Regions from separate parts of the Homo sapiens genome. Here region 2 is linked to region 1. A link means that fine-mapping ties the variant in region 1 to the expression of a gene that starts in the linked region. Tissue or cell type: subcutaneous fat. Region 1 holds a variant in brackets; the other region holds the start of a gene. All regions are shown on one strand. Distances are from middle to middle.

What was found. PIP is the estimated chance that this variant, and not a neighbour inherited with it, causes the effect.
Region 2: LYNX1 starts here. The variant in region 1 is fine-mapped to the expression of LYNX1 in subcutaneous fat (GTEx, PIP 0.93).

What each region holds. Positions count from the first base shown.
Region 1 is chr8:142,801,384-142,809,383 of GRCh38, forward strand. No RefSeq gene overlaps it. Among named protein-coding and RNA genes, the nearest start is that of LY6D, 19 kb to the left of the region's middle. The variant G/T (reference allele first, on the strand shown) is at 4,769.
Region 2 is chr8:142,772,765-142,780,764 of GRCh38, forward strand. It overlaps LYNX1 (Ly6/neurotoxin 1), which reads right to left and starts at 4,438. Exons shown (of 4, transcript NM_177477.4): 1 at 4,342-4,438; 2 at 3,142-3,357; 3 at 2,829-2,930; 4 at 1-2,599. The coding sequence starts at 3,193. The coding sequence ends at 2,403. It overlaps LYNX1-SLURP2 (LYNX1-SLURP2 readthrough), which reads right to left and starts at 5,108. Exons shown (of 5, transcript NM_023946.5): 1 at 4,995-5,108; 2 at 3,142-3,357; 3 at 2,829-2,930. The coding sequence starts at 3,193.

The DNA of each region.
Region 1 (8,000 bases):
TGAATGTCAGGCTGTCAGCATGAGGGAGGGATATGTGTGGGGCAGGTGTAGGCTGCCCCAGGTCTCACGAAGGGTCTTCCCAGCCACTTTTCTTCCCACGGCTTCCCTAGCACCTGTAAACTCATGCACACATCTGCCTCCCTGCCCTCTGAAACTGCCACTGGGTAGAGGACTGGGGATGCTAGAGAATGTAGTGGAGCCACATCAGCTAAATCAGGAGAAAGATGGATGGATGAAGGGGTGGTTGTTAGGTGGGTGGATGGGTGGGTGGGTGGGTAGGTGAACGAGTGGAAAGGTGGATGGGTGGGTGGATGGATGGAAGGGTGAACGGGTGGGTGGTGGGTGGGTGAGTGGATAAAAGGGTGGGTGGGTGGATGGATGGATGGATGGGTGGTCGGAAGCATGGGTGGGTGGATAAGTGGAAGAGTGGATAGTGGGTGGATGAATGGAAGGGTGAATGGGTGGGTGAGTGGGTGGAAGGGTGGATGGGTGAGTGAGTGGATGGAAAGGTGGATGGGTGAAAGGGTGGATGGATGGGCAGGTGAATGGGTGAAAGGGTGGGTGGATGGATGGGTGGGTGTAAGAGTGAATGGGTGGGTGGATGGGTGGGTGCGTGGATGGATGAAAGAGCAAATGGATGGATGGAAGGGTGGATGGGTGGGTGGATGGCTGAGTGGGTGGATGGGCAGGTGGACGAGTAGAAGGGAGGAGGGGTGGGTGGATGGATGGATGGGTGAATGGATGGGTGGATGGGAGGGTAGATGGGTGGGTGGATGGTGGATGAATGGGTGGGTGGATGGATGGAAGGGTGAATGGGTGGGTGGGTGGATGGGTGAGTGGGTGGATGGATAGAAGGATGGATGGGTGGGTGCGTGGATGGTTGGATGGATGGATGGAAGGGTGGTTGGGTGGGTGGGTGGATGGGCAAGTGGGTGGATGGAAGGATGCATGGGTAGAGTGGCAAATGGTGGAGAGAAGGGATGGGGCAGCATGACGCATACAAGGAGGGGTAACTTCAAGGTGACCTGTGTTATACTTCTTACTGTCCCCATCTTCTGTCTGAATCAAAGTTTCCTCACCTACCAAATGGGAGTAATAACAGCCCATGCTGTGGTCTTTTGGGAGGATGAAATGATGAAATGCACAAAACATTGGCCCCTGCCCCACCCTTCTTTACTGGAAAAGGATTGCAGGAAGCTCCAGGCAGGGAAGCCAGAGGCAGCTGGGTTGCCTTTCCTAGGGCAGGTGTGGCTCTGGGGACTTCACATACAGAAGGTGCTTAAGGGCTGTTGAGAGGGCTATCTGCCTGAAGCCTGCTGGTGATGCCCATACCCCAGCCATGTAGGGATCTGCAGCCAGGCCCTGGTCCAGGCTGCAAGTGGGAGGAACATGGGTGGGCTGTGTTCCTGGCTGGCACCTGTGTGCTGTGTGGTTGCCCCCAGCTTCCAACGACATTGAGGACTGGGTCCACGGGCTCCATGGACAAGGCTGAGATGTACAGTCATGGGGACCTATGGAAGAAGGGCAAGGTACAATGGATGCCCTGGGGAGACACTTGGCCAAGAGGGAACACAGTTTTGATAGAGGGCAGGGAGATCTGGGAAGGCTTCCTGGAGTGGGTGGCCCTGTAGGGACATGGGTGGTGGATTTCTATTTGTAGTTGGAGGAGAGACATTTGGACAGAAGGTGCAGCAAGGAAGAGGGAAGGCCAGATTGTTCAGGGTGTGAGGCCCCAGGAGCTGTGACAGGGCGTGACAGTGGGTGGAGAAGCCAGAAACACCACATCCTGGTGTGGAGGCTGTGCTGCCTGGAAAGGCATCTTTGAGCCTTTTGTACCAGGACTTGGGGGTGGAGGTAGTGAGAAAGGTGCCCTATAGGGGGTATCCTGTAGGTGGTGTCCTGTAGGGGTGTCCTGTAGGTGGTGTCCTGTACGAGTGTCCTGTAGGGGATGTCTTGTAGGGAGTGTCCTGTAGGGGTGTCCTGTAAGGGTGTCCTGTAGGGGGTGTCTTGTAGGGAGTGTCCTGTAAGGGTGTCCTGTAGGGGGTGTCCTGCAGGGAGTGTTTTGTAGGAGCGTCCTGCAGAGTGTCCTGTAGGGAGTGTCCTGTAGGGGATATCCTGTACAGGTGTCCTATAGGGATCGTCCTGTAGGGGTGTCCTGTAGGGGGTGCCCTGTAGGGAGTGTCCCGTAGGGGGTTTCCTGTAGGGAGTGTCCTGTAGAGGTTTCCTGTAGGAGTGTCTTGTAGGGGTTTCCTGTAGGGAGTGTCCTGTAGGGGGTGTCCTGTACAGTGTCCTATAGGGGTGTCCAGTAGGGGTGTCCTGTAGGGGTGTCCTGTAGGGAGTGTCCTGTAGGGGGTGTCCTGTAGGGAGTGTCCTGTAGGGGGTTTTCTGTAGGGAGTGTCCTGTGGAGGTTTCCTGTAGGAGCGCCTTGTAGGGGTTTCCTGTAAGGCAGGTCCTGTAGGGGTTTCCTGTAGGGAGCCTGTAGGGAGTGTCCTGTAGAGGTTTCCTGTAAGAGTGTCTTGTAGGGAGTGTCCTGTAGGGAGCGTCCTGTAGGGGGTGTCCTGTTCAGGTGTCCTATAGGGGGTGTACTGTAGGGGTGTCATATAGGGGTGTCCTGTAGGGGTTTCCTGTAGGTGGTGTCCTGTAGGGGGTGTCCTGTAGGAGGTTTCCTGTAGGGAGTGTCCTGTAGGGAGTGTCCTGTAGAGGTTTTCTGTAGGAGTATCTTGTAGGGTTTTCTTGTAGGGAGTATCCTGTAGAGAATGTCCTGTAGGGAGTGTCCTGTAGAGGGTTTCCTGTAGGGAGTATCCTGTAGGGAGTATCCTGTAGGGAGTGTCCTGTAGGAAGTTTCCTGTAGGGGTTTTCTGTAGGGAGTATCCTGTAGGGAGTGTCCTGTAGGAGGTTTCCTGTAGGGGTTTTCTGTAGGGAGTGTCCTGTAGTGGTGTCCTGTAGAGAGTGTCCTGTAGGGAGTATCCTGTAGGGAGTATCCTGTAGGAGGTGTTCTGTAGGGACGCCCTGTAGGGAGTATCCTGTAGGGGGGTCCTATAGGAGGTGTTCTGTAGGGGTGTCCTGTAGGAGGTGTTCTGTAGGGGTGTCCTGTAGGAGGTGTTTTCTAGGGGTGTCCTTTAGGGGTTTCCCGTAAGGGGGGTTTGTGGGGGTTTCCTGTAAGGGGTGTCCTGTAGGGAGTGTCTTCAAGCAGTGCCCCTGTACGGGGGTCCTGTAGGGGTGTCCTGAAGGGGTTTCCTGTAGGGGGTGTTCTGTAGGGGCGTCCTGTAGAGATGTTCTGTAGGGGTGTCCTCTAGGGGTGTTCTGCAGGGGTGTCCTGTAGGGGTTTCCTGTAAGGGTGTCCTGTAGGGAGTGTCCCGTAGCAGTGCCCTGTACAGGGGTCCTGTAAGGGTGTACTGCAGGCGGTGCTCTGTAGGGAATGTCCTGTAGATGTGTCTTTTATGGGGTATTCTGTAGGGGATGTTGTTTAGGGGGTGTTCTGTAGGGGTGTCTTTTAGGTATGTTCTGTAGGGGTTTTCTATAACGGGTGCCCTGTAGGCTTCCTGTAGGGTGGTCTTGATGGGGGTGTCCTGTAGCAGTTCCCTGGGCAAAGCACACCTGCTCTGACTTCAGAGCGAGTGCCTGCTGCGTGGGGTGATTGCATCTTCCGCACCTGTGCAGCTGATATCCATGTTCTTGGGGTCTGACCCTGACCTTTCTTGCTCTCCCTGCCTACAGCTGGGTTCCTGGTGCTGGTGGGGCCGGGAAACACTCCTAGGTTCCTCTGAACAAGGACCTTACATTACCGCCACTTCTCCGTAGGGATCCTGGTAATCCCTAAGCCCTCGGGCTGTGATGGGAATGAAGGGGTCACCCTCATTAGATCCTGGGAGCAGTGACCAGCTCCCAGCAGGTGCTGTCTGACCGTCAGCATCATATGGGCCAACTTTCCAGAAAAGCAAAGTAAGCCCCAGAGAGCACAGGTGTCCCAGGCCAGTGTCCCCATGTCCTGACTTAGCACCCTTGGCCCCTTCTCTCCCATGGTTGTGCCCTGATATATGGAAGGGTTGTGCCCTTCCGTATAGGGGCTGGAGGGATCCGATCAGCTTGGGCAGCCTGACCTTGACTCCTGCCCTTTCCTGATGCCCCCTCCATCTGTCTTTCCAGCCTTCCCACTGCAGGCCCCTCCTCAAGCTGGGGCTGCTCTCCAAAGTCTCCAGCCCTCCCCACTTCCCCCCTACCCTCACCCCACGCTCAGGAGAAGCTGATGGGGCTAATTATCGCTAGATGATAATTTTTCAGCTGATAATCACATGCTCTGTCCCTCCCACCCACACCCCCTGCCTCCTGGCCCCTTTTCAGGCCCCAAAGCCAGGTCATCAAGGTCAGGGTAGAGTGGGGCTAGGGCGGTGACCAACTAGCCCTGGTTTTCTTAGGACTTTCTTTTTTAGCACTCAGAGTCCAACATCCCAAGAATTCCCCTCTGTCTTGGGAAAAGGGGGATGGAACCCAGGCTGGAACCCAGGACCAGCATCGGGGCTTTCCCCACACAAGCCACAAAGACACCAGAAGCTGTGCCCATAGGAAGAGGCCTCCCCCAACTCCCTGCAGCCCGCAGTCCAGGCTGGTGATCCTTGGCAAAGCCTGCCCTGCCAGCGCCCGGTCCCGGGGTGCCCAGCCCAGGAGCCACCTGCCCCTGTCCCTCCCCTGGTGTGGCCAGCGTCTTACCCAGGGCAGCACACACAGCAGCCAGAAGCAGCAGCACCAGGAGAAGCCTCATCGCGGGGTT[G/T]TCCGCCAGGGACTGGGAGCCACAGTGCAAAGGCGCCTTTATATGGTGGCCGGCGACTGAGCCAGACCTGGTAATTTAGCCGGAAGATGCGCTGGGGAGAGCAGGGCCGGCCTGACTCATGCCACTAGGCCTCACTCTGCCCCACCTCCAGGACTCTCAGAAGGCTCCTGTGCCCCCCTCTCTGCTGTCCCTTGGTCCTGAGCCTCTGGGCCCCTACTCCCTGCAGCTTGGGCCCTGTCCTGGGTGTTCTCAGAGGGTCATGGCTCTACCTCTGCAGCCTGGGGGGACTGCCCAGCGCACTTGTGAGTACGTACAGCCCCCTCCCCGCTGCTTCTGAGTATGTGCAGCCCCTCCCCGCCGCTTCTGAGTACGTACAGCCCCCTCCCCGCCGCTTCTGAGTAGGTACAGCCTCATCCCTGGTGCTTCTGAATATCTATGGCCCCCTCCCCTCTGCACTCTCCCTTGCACCAGGGTAGGCAGGGGTCACCAAACCCATTCTAATGGGGAAACTGAGGCACTGGAGGCTGGAAGCTTTGAGCCAGTGCTTCTTAATCTTCAGTGTGCACACAAATCACCTAGGATCCGGTCGAAATGCTGGCTGTGGAGGCCTGGGCGGGGCCTGGAATGGTGCAGGCTCCTTGGGGTGGTGTTGCCTGTCTAGGGTAGGCTTAGCTTGGGCCAGTGGCAGAGCCAAGGTGCACAGGGCAGCCTGGCCATGTCTGAATCACTACCCATCCAACCCCAGGCCAGGCCTGGGGGACTGTGGGGTGACAGGGATATTCTAGGGTCACGGGACATGGCCTGTTTACAGTGGGGCTGGCCCCATTTCTATCCTCAGGGTCTCTCTGGGGTTCTGGAGGCTGAGGGGCAGCAGCTCACAAGCTCAAATCCCCTGGGAGTCTCTCCTCCAACCCCCAATGTCTCCCTGCTTCAGGATGGCTCCCCTTCTGGTCTCCTTCCACCTCCCCCTCCTCATCCTGTCTGCCCTCCCCACTGGGATTGGCTCCAGTCCTCTCTACCCCTTGCATGAGACACTTACACTCACCTTCAGCCTTTCCCAGGCCTTCCCTTGTACCCTGAACACGCTTCTCCCCTGCTGCCCCATCAGCAAGATTGCCTTGTCTGGAGCACTCTGTATCCCCTCTGTCTGGACCTGTGCCCTAGAGGTGCCCCTGAGGGCCTGAATCCCATTCCCGACCTCTGCACAGACCCAAGAGCCCAAGGGCCCTCTTCTCCATCCACCCTCGGAAGCTAGGCCAAGCTGCTGGGCACCCACCCCAAGGCTGGAAGGTGGGGCTGGATGCCCAGGTCGGGGCCATGCAGGATGTCGGGGGGTGGGGCAGGCAAGCTCCAGGGCTGGGACTGGCTCTCTCTGCAGCCATCTCCCAGCATGAAGGCCAAGGAGTCTGGAATTTGAATGAACACCAGGCTTTCCCTGTGGTGTTGATGTTATATTTGTCAACAGTATTTTATTTTAACTGTTTTTTAGCTCCTTTGAAAACTTACATATCTGGGGACACACATGGCATGTGGGCTCCCATTGCCTTGACCCCCAGTGGAAAGGAAGGATCATTTCCTTTCAGCTCCTCTTGCTCCGCTCACTCCAGGTCACCTCTGGGCTTAGCGGCTTCCTGGCCATGGGTCATGGCAGCGTGTGAGCTGCAAAGCTGCCATGGGACAGGGACTGGACTCTGGGGCGGGCACCTTTGCAGACACAACCTCAGTCCTCAGCCCAGGCCTGGGAAGGTTTCCTCATCCACCCCTTGGTGGGGTTGAGGGTCAGGGCCGGTGGGAGGAACCGAGACCCGTGGTGTAACAGGACAGCTGGGCGTTGCAGGCCCTGACACAGCCTCTGAGGGGAGGGGAGGGGGCTCCACACACACCTGCCAGGAGGCCCCTTATGGGTACTTTGAGGCAGGGAGCATTTCTTCAGCTTCCCTGCAGGGCCCTGCCCCAGGAAGAAAGGCATGGTGAGCTGCCAGTGCCACCGTGGATGGCACAGACTGTGATGTGCCCTTCCTCCCCCCATCCCAGTGCCACAGGGCTCTGAGTCTGTGAAAGCAAAGAAGGGGCAGGGTCGCAGCAGCAGCAGCAGTGGGCTGGGGAGAGATCCCCGGTGCTGGGCTCCACCTGCCCTGAGTAGTAACCAATCTGCACAAGGCTGGGCCCCTTCCGCTGCAGAGGCAGGACAGGGGCTGGGGCGGATGGGTGCCTGTGTGAGTGTGACTGTGTGTGAGGCTGTGTGTGAGTGTAAGACTGTGAGAGTGTGAGTGTATGAGAGTGTGAGACTGAGTTAGTGTATGAGCATGTGTGTGTATGAGTGTGTGTATGAGTGTGAATGACAGTGAGTGTATGAGTGTTAGTGTGAGAATGTGTGAATATGAGTGTGTGTTAGTATAGTGTGAGTGCATGTGTATAAGTATGTGAATGAATGAGTGCATGTGAGTGTGTTAGTGTATGAGCTTGAGTGTGTGTGAGTGTATGGGGATGTGTGAGTGTATGAGTGTGTGAATGACAATAAGTGTATGAGTGTGTGTGAGTGTGTGTGTAAGGTGTGTGTGGATGTAAGTGTGTTAGTATAGTGTATGAGTGTGAGTGCGTGTGTATAACTGTGTGTATGTGAGTGAATGAGTGTGTGAATGAGACTGTGTAAGACTGTGTGTGTGATGCTATGTGTGAGTGTACAAGTGTGCACGAATATGTGTGTGAATGACAGTGTATGAGTGTAAGTGTGAGAGTTGAGTGTGTTAGTGTGAGTGTATGAGTGCATGTATATGAGTGTGAGAGTGAATGTGAAAGTGTGTGTGCAGTGAGTGTATGTGTGTGAAAGTGTGAGTGTCAGTGTATGCGTGTGAGAATGTGAATGAGTGTGAACGAGTGTGTGTGTGTGTGAGTGAGCATAGTGTATGAATGTGAGTGTGCAAGTGTGAGTGTGAGGATGCGAGTGTGGTGCATGTGTATATGTGAGTGAATGTGAGTGTGTGTATAAGTGTGAGAGTGAGTGTGAGAATGTGTGTGAGTGTGTTAGTATAGCATGAGTGTATGAGTGAGAAATGAGTTCATGTGTATGAGTGTGTATGTGAGATTGAATATGAGTGTGAAAGTGTCAGTGAGTGTATGAGTGTGTGTTAGTATGAGGATGTATGTGAGACTGAATGTGTGTGTGACAGTGTGACTAAGTGTGAGAGTATGTGTGTGTGCATAAGTGTGTGTGTGAGAAACAGTGTGAGCG
Region 2 (8,000 bases), 29 kb before region 1:
CCCATGAGTGGGCCTGCCCAGCATTAGCTGAGTGCCTTCTGTGTGCTCTACGCCAGGTGCCAAGGGCAGGCCAGCCAGGCAGAACCATGTGTGGGGCTGGGACAGGTCAGGGTGGTGGAAAGGTGGACAGAAGGAGGCAGGAGGCAGGTGTGAGAAGCTGCCCACCCCACCCCTCAACACCACAGCACTTCCAGCTCCAGCAGGTCCTTGTTCTCAGCTGCCCCTGAGCCATGGGTGGCCAGGTCTCCTCCCCATCACCCCACTGAGACTCGAGACAGGGAGGACCTGATCCTGGAGTCCCTCCCAGCCCTGGCTGAGGAAGCCACCCAACCCGACAATGGGCTTGCGCAAGCCGCGCAGTGACTGCTCCCAGCCTCTCCCAAGGACTTAGGAGCCCAAAGCCGCCTCCCTCCCGGTAAGCATCCCAAGGCATCGCTGGCTGCAGCTGAGAGGGCCTCATTTGGGCACTGCCCTGAGGCTGGCACTTGCAGGTGGGGGCCCTTGGGAGCTCTGGGAGGCACCTGGCAGCCTCCCAGACACCCCGGGCCGGTCCTGCTCTCCAGGCTTAGGGCTACAGCCACAACCACTGGGGGTAGGGGCGAGGGGAGTCCAGGCCCACCCTGTGCTGGCAGCAACTCCTTCCCAGCTCTGGGCCCAGTATGATGCCCATCTTCCCTCTGGGGAGTCACGTTCCTCCCGCTCCGGGCCCGTTCCCACCCAAGGTCCCTTTGCAGAAGACTGGCACTGTCCTCCTCCAGCGGGAACTGGGTGTGCCCTCAGCAAGACTCTGCCCCCTCCCATCCTCATGTTCTCAGGAGACTGAAGCTGGGCACTCAGAACCAGCCCCAGGAGCAGAACGCAGGCCTGCATATAGACTCACTGCAAGGAGACCCCTGGGGTGGAGACCCTCATTCCCTGATCCCCCAGGGGTCCTGCATCAAAGCTCTGGAGATGCAATTTCCAGCAGGGGCTCCCCTGACCAGGGCCATACTTTGGGGCCGGGACAATCCTACCACATGGATATGTCACCATCCTGCCCATGCGGGATGGCTTGAAGGGTTTCTCAGGACACCAGAGCTGGGAGCACTGGTCAGGTGGGGGCCTCAGGTGCAGCGTGACCGCTGGCACCAAAAGGTCTCACGCCCCCGAATGCCCCATTCACAGCAGGGGCAGGTGCTCCCTGGGCTACCTGCATCGGGGATGGATTGGTGCGTGTTGGGCTGACCCCTGCTTCCCAGGCCTGGGGTGGGGTCCCTGGGAGTCCACACACCCAGCTGGGGCTTCCACCCTGCCCTCCCAGTGGGTGCATCCCCAGGTGGAAGGTGATGGAGGGACCCACTCACTGTGCGCATCCCGCTGCGGGGGAGGGGCTGGGTCTCCGCCCTCCCCACCCCACCCTCCCCACTCCCGCCCCCGCACGGCCACGAGAGGGTGGCATGCTCCGCCTTCCCACGCCCAGGCCCGCGCCGGCCCCAGGCTGCTCCCAACCCCCAGCCTGTGCGCGCATCCCCCAGTCCTGCGTCTTTTGCCTTGCTCGGCTGGGTCCTGCTGTGGTTGGGGACCAGGACTCGGGGGACCACCTGCTCTGCCCCTTTCCCTCCCTGCCCAGAATAGCGCTGGCCGGGTCAGCGTCCAGGACCCACCAAATATAGCATGGCCCTAGCTCCTGCCAGCTTCAGGCCTGGTGCCCTCCCCGTGAGGGGGTGGGAAACGTCAAGGGGTTTGACTGAGAGGACACACACCCCTTGCTGGACCCGAAAAAGCTTCTGTGACTTCGGGGGCCCTGGGGCCTGCTGAGGCAGAGCCGCCCCCTCCCCTGCAGGGGGTGGCTCCAACTCGGGCCTGGCAGACTTCCTAGCACAGGGGCCGGTGCCAAAGGCCCTCCTCCCACAGCCCTGATCCCGTACCGGTCCTGGCAGCTCCTGGCCTCAGTAGGAAGCGTGACTAGGCCTGGAGGAGCCTTTCCTCCTAAGAGTCTCCCCACCACCCCACCTGCGGGCATTCCTTGTCTTCCCCCTGCCCCAGCACACCAGGGGCAGACTGAGGCAGGGGCCTCTCCTAGGGCTTCCCAGAAGGTGGGCTTGGCCACAGCTCCCATCTGCTCAGTGCTCCCTGCCTGACTGGGCCCCTCCCCATAAATAGCCCTGGACAGGCGAGGGGCTGATCAGCCCATCAAAGCCGGACACTTTTGGGATCCCACACAGCATCGAAAGGTCAAGGCCTCGAAGTGAGGTCGTGTGGTGGTTGGGGGAGGTCGGGTGTCTTCTTGCCCACAGTCCTGACCCTGGGCATGGCTGAGGAGGTCGCAGGGAGTGTGGAGGGTGAGGCAGGGTGAGCTGGGTGCGAGGGTGTAGCAGTGTGTCTCGAGAGCTTTGTTCTTGAGTGGGTCTGCCTCGGGGGCTTTAGAGGAGACCCCAGAGGGTGGCCAGGAGGATGGGGGCCAGGGCCAGGGTGGCCGGGGTGGCAAGGCCGGTGCCGTTGCAGAGGTCGTACTGGCAGCAGGAGGTGGTGGACGCGTGCTTGGAGTAGCCATCATACACAGTCTCGAAGCAGCGGGGCACGCAGGACTTACTGACCTTCATCCTGGTGGGGGTGTAGTCTGCAGAGGGGCGGGGCGGTGAGCCAGCTCCGCTAAGAGGGGCAGGAGACCCAGCTGGCCCCACCCCAGCATCCACAGCCATCAGGGCAGGGCCCCTCAGCCTGGAGCTCCCAGACAGGATCCGGGAACAGGAGAGCCTCCTTCCTCAGGACCCCCGCATGCTCAGGGGCAGGGCAGAACCTCCCCTTCGTGCTCCCCAGGCAGGGCCACGCAGGGCCCCCAGACTCACAGGTGCGCGTGGTCATGCAGTAGGCAACCATAGCCGGGCAGCGCATGGGGTTGAAGCAGTTGTCTCCGTTGTAGGCACACACGTGGCAGTCCAAGGCCTGGGCTGGGGTTGGCAGATGGGCGGGAAGGGAACGGGGGTCACAGAACATGAGAGGCCCCTCCTCCAGCCCATCAGGCCCCCAGCCCGTCACCTTCCCCGGGGCAGGGGGCTAGAAGGAGGGGTTGTCGCTGGGAATTCTAGCCTCCTTCCCTACTGTCAGCCCATCTGCCCTCAAAGTGGGTCTGCCCATCCCTCTGTCCTTTGTCCATCTTACCCAGAGGTAAGCCCATGAGGACCACCAGGATCAGGGTGAGCAGGGGCGTCATGGCTGCAGGCAGGAGGGCAGCGTGGGAGTGGGGAGGTCAACAGCAGCTAGCCCTGGATCCAACTCAGGGGTGGCGCACAGAGGATCCAACTCAGGGTGGTGCGCAGAGGACGTGGGGCCGGCCCTGCCTCCCGGAGCTCCTGGTCTACTGGGAGTGCTGCAACCCTGCACAGCAGGTGGCAAAGACAGGTGGTCAGTACTGGGCCTGAAGGACCCATGGGGGCCTGGGCAGGGATGATGGTGGGCAGAGGGGCCACCTAACTCAGTGGGTGTCAGGGAAGGTTTCCTGGAGGAGGAGACACTTGGGATGGGACAAGAAGGGAGAAGAGATCAGGACATTTCAATCAGAGACCAGCACCTGCAAAAGCTCAAAACAGCCTGTAGCGCTGGATGGAGGAGAGATGGGGGGAGGATGAGGGGCAGTGCTAGAGAAGGAGTAGGGATGGGCAGAGGGGCCTTAAATACCAGGCCTAAACAAGGATTTTACCCAGGGGATGGTTGGTGCAGAGGTCCCATGGGAGGTGGTCTGCAGCCCCATCCCAAGCAGGGCCCTGGGGGCCGGATGGCTGGCCATGGCAGGACTGGGCCCAAAAGCTGGGTCTCTTCTCGCTGTTCCCCTCCTCTCTGCTCCTGGGGTGTCCCTACTTGGGGTTCCTTCTTCCAGAAGACCTCCAGAGCCCTGGTTAGGGTTGTCTGAGTCCTCGGCCACTGCAGAAGCTCCCCAGCAGGGATGAGCTGTGCCCAGCTTGGGGGGAATGCATTTTGAGCCCCTCCCAGGAGGGCACTTGGGCCAGACAAGAAGAAGCATTTCCCCGGCTGGGTCTGGTGTTTGGAACGGGAATGCCCTCTCTGGAAAGAGGTTTACAGTGGGGAGGTGGGGGTTGGATTACGGCTCTCCTACCCCTGCCGGGATACTCGGCCCTCGGTCTCCGTCCTGGAGGACTAAATTAAACTTACGCCTTCCCGAGAACAACAAATCCGTCTCTCACGACACATTTGCCCAGGCCAACCCCAGGATGCCAAAGGCCAGAGTCAGGCCTGCGGCTTCGAGCTTCCCAACCCCCTCACGGAGAGCCCCGCCCCAAACACTGCGGTCCCAGGTCGAGGGGAGGGCTCTCGGCGCGAGCGGGACTATCAGGGTGACCTCACCTGTGACCTTCACCACCGTGAGGTACCGCCGCGCCTGGGAGTCACCCGCGGCCGCTCGCCGGTAGGTGCCTGCCTGAGTCTAATCGTAGGCGTGTCTGTGTGTCCCGCAGCACCCGTGCCGCATCGCCTGATGCTCACCGCAGGCCCAGCCCAGTCCCGCCCCCGGAACAGCCCGCCCAGCGCGAGCTCACCGCAGGCCCCGCCCCAGGCCTGCCCCGGCCCCACCTCCTGAGCAACCCCCCGAGCCGAGCTCACCGCAGGCCCCGCCCCGGACCCGCCTCCTGGGCTACTCACCAAGCCGCGCTCACTGCAGGCCCCGCCCCTGCCCCGCCTCCTGGGCACCCGCCGAGCCGAGTTCACCGCAGGCCCCGCCCCGGACCCGCCTCCTGGGCACCCGCCGAGCCGAGTTCACCGCAGGCCCCGCCCCGGACCCGCCTCCTGGGCACCCGCCGAGCCGAGTTCACCGCAGGCCCCGCCCCGGACCCGCCTCCTGGGCACCCGCCGAGCCGAGTTCACCGCAGGCCTCGGCCCGGACCCGTCCCCGGACCGCCGGCTCGCCGGGCAAGCGCTGGGACCCCGAGGCCAGTCCAGGCATCTGGATCTCCGACACAGAGGCAGCCACGCAGTGATTCCCTGGCGACCCTCAGACTCACGTGTTCAGCCCGGACACTCCGCAGGCTATCTTCACCGCGTCCCGCGGCAGCCCAGCCTTCCCCGCAGCCGCCTCCGCCCACTCGCCCGCGCCGCGTCGTTTGTCGGCCGGCACCAGCCTTGCGGCCCCAGCTCCGCCCTCCTGCAGCCCAGGCCCAGCAGCTCCGGAACTGGCGCCCTTTGGCGCACCCGCCTCGCTGCCCATGGCCTCCGCCTGCCTCCCCTGCGCTCAGCTCCCGCTTCTGGTCCCTGTAGCAAAGCTGGAAGGCAGGCCTGCAAGGCAGCCCCTTGCTCCGTGGTCCCTCTCACCATCATAATGTTCATATTAAATAATTATCTTTACATAACTTTGAATACTTATGTTATTGGTTCTGTTTTTGGCAAAATGTAATAAAATTTCATGGGTCCGAAAGTTTTCATTTTTTCCAATGTGAGAAAGAAAAATAAAACCTTTTCTTCTACCCTAAAGCTCATTTTTTTCTTTAAAACATTTTTGCGGGCCTGAGGTACAGAATACACCATGCCTGCTGGGCAAGCGGGCTCCGGTTCCAGGAAATCCTTCGGTCCCCAGCAAACTAGGCCAGTTAGTTGTTCTGTTTGCCGAGAGGTAATGCGCACCCTCCTGTGCCAGGTCCTAGTTGGGGAGAAGGCAAAGAATAAAACCAGCAGACGTTCCAGAATATTCCCACCCCATGGAGCTCACACTCTGGTGGGATAAGGGGCGTGGAAGGAACGCATAGGTCAGAACCAGAGTATGTCGCGGTCTTCAGCCTCAGACCACGATGAATTAATACGGATGAAACTTCCCTTGCCCGCCCGCCAGCGCTCGCCTCCTGCTGTGTGGCGTGGTTCCTAACCGGTCTGTGACCCAGGGGTTGGGGACCTTTATGTTAAAGGAAGTTCTTCAGGCAGAAATACGGATCTACACAAAGGAATAAATGACACCAGAAATAGGAAATAGAAGGTAATTTTTTTCTTATTTTTGAATCAAGTTAAAAGATAGTTGATTACCTAAAGCAAAAATAATAACAATGTATTAAGGAATTTATAGCAAATGTAGAAGTAAATTGTATGATAATAGTAGTGCAGGCTGGGCACCGCGGCTCACGCCTGTAATCCCAGCACTTTGGGAGGCTGAGGCGAGTGGATCGCTTGAGCCCAGGAGTTCAAGACCAGGCTTGGCTGGGCAACGTAGAGAGACCTCATCTCTAAAAAAAAAAAAATACCAAAAAATTAGCTGGGTGTGGTGGTGCACACCTGAGGTTGCACCCAGGAGGCTGAGGTGGGAGAATCACTTGAACCCAGGAGGTGGAGGTTGCAGTGAGCTGTGATCACGCTACTGCACTGAAGCCTGGGTGATAGAGCAAGACGCTGTGTCAAATAAATTTAAAAAAAAATAGTAATACAAATAGACCAGGAGAGGGACAATGGAAGTTCACTGTTGTAGATTTATTCTACTCTATGTGAAGTGGCCTACTATTTCTTGGAGGTAGACTAGTAAGTCAAAGGTGTATGCTAAGACGCTAAAGTGTCACTAAAAAAAGACAAAGAAAAAAGCAAAAGTCAAAGCACTGTAGTTAATAAATCAACAAAAGTGATGATACAGAATTATTTATTTATAAAAGCACATGTTACAGAGACTGCAGAAGAGGAGAAAGGAAAAAACAATGAGACAAATAGAAAACAAATAGCAAGATGACATATATTTAAACCCAGCCACAGCAATAATGACACTATGTCATCTAAACACTTCAATCAGGCTGAGCACGGTGGCTCACACCTGTAATCCTAACCTGTAATCCCAACACTTTGAAAGGCTGAGGAAGGTGGATCACTTGAAGTCAGGAGTTCCAGACCAGCCTGGCCAACATGGTGAAACTCCCTCTCTACTAAAAAATACAAAAATTAGCTGGGCATGGCGGTGGGTGCCTGTAATCCCAGCTACTTGGGAGGCTGAGGCAGGAGAATTGCTTGAACCTGGGAGGCAGAGGTTGCAGTAAGCTGAGATGGTGCCACTGCACTCCAGCCTGAGCGACAGAGTGAGTGAGACTCTGCCTCAAAAACAAACAAAAACATCTCAATTAAAAACAGAGGTTGTCAGATTGGATAAAAATAGAAACAGCCAAGTATATGCTGTCAGTGGGAAACTCACCAGACATGTAAAAACACAAATAAGATAAAAGTAAAAAGATGGAGAGAGATATACTATGCTAACACCAATTAAAAGAACACAGACATGACTACGTCAATATCAAAGTAGGTTTAAAGCAAAGACTATAATCAGAAATAAAGAGGAGCATTACTGGCCAGGTGTAGTGGCTCTCATCTGCAATCCCAGCACTTTGGGAGGCTGAGGTGGGAGGATTGCTTGAGGCCAGGAGTTTGAGACCAGCCAGGGCAAAACAGCAAAACACTATCTGTACTAGAAAGAAAGAAAAAAAATTTAAAAAGAGGGACATTACCAAATGATAAATTGATCAGTTCATGAAGAGGACTCAGCAGTTCTAAATATGTATGCACCTAACAATTAAGCTTCAAAATACACAAAGCAAAACAAACAACATCTGATAGAACTGAAAGGAGAAAAAGAAAATCCACAATAACAGAGATTTCAACACTCCTCTTTCGAGAACTGATAAAAAATAGACAAAAAGTCTGTAAGGATGAAGACGTGGATCACATTACCAGTCAACATGACCAACTTGATGTTTGTAGGACACTCCACCTCACAGAAGGGGAACACACCTTTATTTACCAATAATGTCCTCCAAGGCAGACTGTATTCTGGGCCATAGAACAAATCTCAGTAAATTTATACGGATTAAAATCATGCAGATTATTTGCTTGGACTACAATGGAGCTAAATTAGAAATCAATAACAGAAATATATCTAAAAGATCATCAAATATTTAGAAACTGAGTAATAACATATTTCTAAACAACTTATAGGTCAAAGGAGAAACCAAAAAGGAAATCAGAAAATATTTCCAACTGAATGAAAATGCAAA